Regions from separate parts of the Homo sapiens genome. Here region 1 is linked to region 2. Evidence: fine-mapped expression QTL. Tissue or cell type: testis. Region 2 holds a variant in brackets; the other region holds the start of a gene. All regions are shown on one strand. Distances are between the middles of the regions. Region 1 holds the start of LINC01020 (long intergenic non-protein coding RNA 1020). Region 2 overlaps LINC01020 (long intergenic non-protein coding RNA 1020).

Evidence for each region. PIP is the estimated chance that this variant, and not a neighbour inherited with it, causes the effect.
Region 1: LINC01020 starts here. The variant in region 2 is fine-mapped to the expression of LINC01020 in testis (GTEx, PIP 0.98).

Annotation. Positions count from the first base shown.
Region 1 is chr5:5,033,036-5,035,960 of GRCh38, forward strand. LINC01020 (long intergenic non-protein coding RNA 1020) reads left to right here and starts at 1,324. Exons shown (of 7, transcript NR_026994.1): 1 at 1,324-1,502.
Region 2 is chr5:5,038,540-5,041,464 of GRCh38, forward strand. LINC01020 (long intergenic non-protein coding RNA 1020) reads left to right here. Exons shown (of 7, transcript NR_026994.1): 2 at 131-259. Among named protein-coding and RNA genes, the nearest start is that of LINC01020, 5.6 kb to the left of the region's middle. RefSeq lists enhancers at 1,305-1,404, 1,425-1,664. The variant G/A (reference allele first, on the strand shown) is at 1,813.

The DNA of each region.
Region 1 (2,925 bases), 5.5 kb before region 2:
AATGCCCCCTAAGAGCGTTCTAGAGTTGGTGTGAGGAGACAGAGCCTATATACTACTGCATTAACCAGTCATTGTCAAGGCTGCCCAGAAGGCAGCAGGACCTTGGGCAAGGTGACTCTCAGCCAAGGCAATTCCTGAAGATCTACCAGCCCAAAATGTTTTCGGCAGCCAGGGAAATGGAGTCCTTCTGTTCTGGAAGGGGATCTGGGAGGTGGAGCCCAACACCCTTGAAAGCCCACTGTTGTGGCCTCTCTGATAGGGTCACTACATGTGAGACCTGGGAGCAGCTCACCCAGGAGGCTGCTAGCATGTCCTCCTGGAAAAACTTAGCAGAGGAAATTTCCTGGAATGAACTACAGTCTCTGCCACTACAGCCAGCCTCAAATCTTCAAATGATGCTCATATCTTTCCCTTCTTTCCATACAAGGCTGTCATCACACTTGGACAGCATCTCTTCTGGTTTGCCTGGGCCATGAACCAGCTCCTGTCCCTGGAGGTCTGAGTCTGTGTTTATCATGCTCTTATCAGGGAATGGTTCCATTCACTGCTAAAACTGGAGAAGAAAGTCCTAAGAAATACCCACGTGGATACCATGTGTCAAGCTTATTTCTCCCCGGCTCCATGGAGAGGTGACGGCACACCCTACTGAAGGCAGGGGCAGCTACCTTGCTGCAGCAGTAGGACCTCTTCTAGGTGGCCTGGCATGCCATGTGCACTGCAGCACCTCCCTTTCTATCAAGTGGGCCATTTAGTCTGATGTGGTGTCACAAGAAATGCCATACTGGGAATCAGTCATTCTGTAAGAGGGTTCCCTTCCTTTGGCACAAGCAGTCTGAACTGCCCACGTGGTGACTGGAGTTTTGCATTCAGTGGAATTCTGAGTGTATCCTTTGGAAATCAGGACTTCTAAAATCCACAGAAATCTCAACTGTCTAGATGAAAATCACACATTCACAAGTGGATATGATGACTGAAGAGGCCACTTCTGCTGAAACCTAATGATTTTATATGTTGGAAATGTAGCACATGAAATGGTCATTGACTTAGCACCTACACTGAATTTTAAAAAATGACCCCTCATCCTCACAGGACATCACCTCTGAGCTGGCCCAGCAGATGTATCTTCGTAGGCTGTCCCATTATTCTGGACTGGACGCTTCTGATGGTGTGATGTGTGGTGAGATTAGTGCTGTGGTCACGTCCCCACCGTCACGTCTCCGTTTTTATAAAGTGGGTCCCTGGGTATGACGTGATGTCACATGAAATGCCTTATTATGCACCAAACATTCTGTAAACCCCCAGAGCAACAGAATACTGTGCTGAGGCCCCAAAACAGAAAGGAAAGCTCACCACCAGAATGTGCCTTTTCCTTATCAAAAAGAATTGCTGCCCCTTACAGGACAGGAGGACTCCAATTGTGACCAAGTTGGAGCAGCCTTGAGCCACAACTCAGACTTATTTTCATTCTCTGCTCATTGGCCATTAGGAACCCGATCCTTATGGTATGTTCACACTGTCTCCAGGCTGGGCACAGTGGCTCACACTTGTAATCCCAGCACTCTGGAGGCCAAGGTGGGTGGACGGCTTGAACTCAGAGTTTGAGACCACCGTGAGCAACATGACAAAACGCTATCTCTACAAACAATATAAAAATTAGCCTGGTGTGGTGGTGCACGCCTGTGGTCCCAGCTACTAGGGGCTGATGTGGGAGGATTGCTTGAGCCTGGAAAGTGGAGGTTGCAGTGAGCTGAGATTGCACCACTGCACTCCAGCCTGGGTGACACAAGGAGACGCTGTCTCAGTAAGTAAATAAATAAATAAATAAATAAATAAATACCTGTTCACAACTCATTCACAGAAATAATGCTAACTTTTATGGTCGATGCATGATGTATACCGTTTTTTGGTAAAAATGTTGTAATTGTAAACATATTTTCCTATCTTGATGGATATTTGTTATAAGCAGTGTCAAACATTTCATGGAAAGAGGTGTTATATACATATTATACATAAATTCATGAACTTCTTTATCTTTCTTTCCTCTGACGTTAGATGTTTAGAATTTTTTAAATTGTTTGCTCTCATTGGTAATGCCACCAGGGAAGCTTGGTTCATCACATCTGGGAGAACAGATCCTTTTTATAAATGCCTAAGAGATGTTTTGAATGATTCAAGTTTTGACTGTCTTTAGAGCTTTCCCCATATGTTGCCATATGGATTTCAAAAGGTTAAATTTTTACATGTATAAAATTATTTAATACATGCTCTATTATATTTTAACATAATAAATATATGAAATACTTTTTTTACATTTTTTAAGTTAACTACTTTAATAAATTTATCATGGTAGTTTTTAGCTGATGCATACAGATTGCCAGGCTATTTAATCAGTTAATCTGAAAATAATTATAGATCAAGTTTCTTAATTCCAGCTTTATTGTAAATATAAAACACACTTGATATTTACTAAAAAAGTAAAATGTAGATTGTGAAGTCATCTTATATAATCACAAGTCAATAGGAGTCAAATTAACAAGATTCTGTATTTATAGATTATAAAGAATAAGAGTTTATAAAGGAACCTAGTTTCTTTTTGCTTACACAGCATCACCCAGCCCTCCACCTGCACCACTGGAGGGATGGCAGGTGTGGAGGTTGGGCTGGTGCTGGTGATGGAGTGAGATACTGGAACAGTGTCTGCTCTCTTTGTACAGCAGCAAGGATTGGAGTGAACAGTGCTGTCTTGTAGCCCCAAGAGTTTATGGGAATTTTCAGCTTCTCCTATTTTTATCATTCTGATCGAATGTCAATAAATTCATACAAGTAAAATAATAAAAAATAAAACCCTCATATTTCCTTATTTGTCAAGATATGAAATTAGTTCTAGTGAATCAAGAACACTAATATTTTGGCTACTTAATTATA
Region 2 (2,925 bases):
GTTTCAAGGCACTGAATTTTTTGCAATTTGTTATGATAGCAGCAGAAAAGTAATGCACCATAGTTCACTTTCGAGTTTTTTTAATTATGATTTTTTTACAGATGTTGTTGCTATGATTTTTCTTTTTAAGACCTGCAGTGACCTGCTGCTACCAGAACTGACTCGCTTCAAAGTGACGGATGAAACCCATATGGAGATATTCCTGGGGTGGGTAGGCCAGTTGGAAGACAGAGTGTTTACACCTGAGAGAGGACTTGAGGTGAGTTGAGTATAGGGCTTGATTATGAGTTTAATATCTACTTCTCTCACTGGACTGCTCCATCACTGAGGGCAGGTTTATCTGTCATGTTCCCCTGTGCTATGTTTTTTTTTTGTCCCTACCTAAGCTCATGTTGAAATTTAATCCCCAGCGTGATGGTATTAGGAGGAAGGTATTAGTGGAAGATGTTTGAGTCACGGGAAAAGATCCCTTGTGAATGACTCGGTGCTGTTCATATGGTAGTGAGTTTTCCATCTCACGAGATGAATTGGTTCCTAAAGGAATGGATGAGTTCCCTTGAGAGTGGGTTGTTATGAATCCAGGACACTCTCAGGTTTGGTCCCCTTCAAGTGCCTGATTCTTCTTTGACCTTCTCACTAGGTTTGGTGCAGCACAGGAGCCCCCACCAGAAGCTGAGCAGAGGTACAGCCTACAGAACCATGAGCAAAATTAACCTCTTTTCTTTATAAATCACCCAGCCTCAGATATTTCTTTGTAGCAACACAGAAAGGAAAAAGACACCCTGGATGCTCAGTTCTTGGAGAAGCACAGGTATTTTGCCAAAGTGCTTAAGAGCAGGCCTCCGGATGTCTGACTACCTAGGTTCAAATTCCAGCTGGGTGGCTTCCAAGCTGTGTGCCATGTGCCTTTGGGCAGGTAAGTCAATGCACCTCCTGTGCCTCTGTGGGGCCAGCAGCAGTACTTCATAAAGGATAGGTTGCTGAATTAAGTATATTATGGTCATGTTTCAACTAACATGTACCTAATATGTGCTAGGTTCTCCTCTGGGCACCCTGGAACCATCAGTGAACAACAACAAAAAAGAATCCTCTGTCCTCTTAGAGCTTACATTCTAGTGTGAGAACACAAATAATAAATATACTAAATGACAAATAGAAAAACAAAATAAGGCAAGGAAAAGAAATAGTATCAAAGGCAGCTGGTCATGATTTTTAAAATATACTGACTATGTGTATTAGCTGGTTCTCACACTGCTAATAAAGACATACCTGAGACCGGGTAATTTATAAAGGAAAGAGGTTTAATTGACTCACAGTTTGGCATGGCTGGGGAGGCTGCAGGAAACTTACAATCATGGCAGAAGGGGAAGCAAACACATCCTTCTTCACATGGCACCAGCAAGAAGAAGTATGAGTGAAGCAAGGGGAATGTCCCTTATAAAACCATCAGATCTTGTAAGAACTCACTCACTGTCATGAGAACAGCATGGGGGAAACCACCCCCATGATTCAATTACTTTCTATAGGGTCCCTCCCATGACACGTGGGGATTATGGGAACCACAATTCAGAATGGGATTTGGGTGGGGGATTTTGGCCAAACCATATCACCAGGGTAGGCTTTATTAAGAAGGACATTTTGAAAACGCTTAAAGGTGGTGGGAGAATTAGTCATTTCTGTATCTATGGCAAGGACTTTCTCAGCAGAAAGAGCATCTGGACAAAGGCCCCGAGGCTGGAGGAAGCCTAGTGGAATGGAAGACGGTGGCCAGAACATCTGGAGTAGAGAGAACTGGGAGAAATTTGGTAGTGA[G/A]GAAAATAATGTGGGGCTAGATTATGTGGAGTCTAGCAAGCCATTTTAGAAGAAGAAGGAAGGTTTTCAGCAGTAAGGGATACCAGGAAGAGACATTTACAATGAGCCACTCTGGCTTCTATATCTAGGACAGACTCCAGAGGATGTGGGGTAGGGTCAGGGTCAGGAAAGTAAACACCAAATCCAAGGCCACTGGGAAACAGGGGCATGAGATTGTGGTCCCTCAGAATAAAGTGGTAGTCCTGGAGATGGTAAGAAATAATAAGATTGCTGGACAAGTTTAAAATAAAGCCAAAACAATTCCCTCACTCTAAGGATATGGAATGTTCAAGAGTGATAACAGATGAGAATGACCCCAGGTTTGGGGGAGGCAAAACATTGGTAGAGCAGGGCAGCTAACAGCTGAGAAGGGAAGGCTGGGAATGGGCTCAGTGTTGAATGTGTGGAGAATCCAATGTGGGTAAAGCACCAGTGGAGATGTCGAAAAGACAGTTGGACAAAGGAGGAAATGTCAGGAGGCCGCAGTGTGGACTATGAACTTGGGCATCAGCGTGTGAATGGTATTTGAAGCTGTGAGACTGCATAAGGTCACAAGAGGAATGTGTGTGGACAGAGAGGAGAGGAAGACTGAGCTCTGAGCCATAAAAAGTAAAAAATCAGAGGGGAAAGAAAGGAAAATTTGTTATGAGAAAAACCACAGGAGTGTGGTATTGTGGAATCTAAGAGAAGACATGAATCAAGAGAGAGGAAGGGGTCAGCTGGGTGGAATGTAACTGGTCCCATTGGGTTTAGCGACACAAAGATCTTCCACAATGTGTTTGTGGAGTATAGAGGACAGAAGCGGGTGGAGTGAGGTTAAAAGACAAGAGAGGGAGAGGAAATGGAGTTAGTGAGTATAGATAACTCTTGACAGCTTTATTGAAAATGGGAGCAAAGAAATAGGTGATTGCAGGCAGAAGAAATGGGGTTAGGAGAAGGGTCATCAAAATTGGGAGAAATGACAGCATGCTTTTGTATAGATGGTGATAATCCAGTGAAGAGGAGAAACTTGGCAATATGGGAGAAAGTGGAGAAAGCTCTGGGGGCCGTGCCCTGGAGTCAGGGGAAAACAGA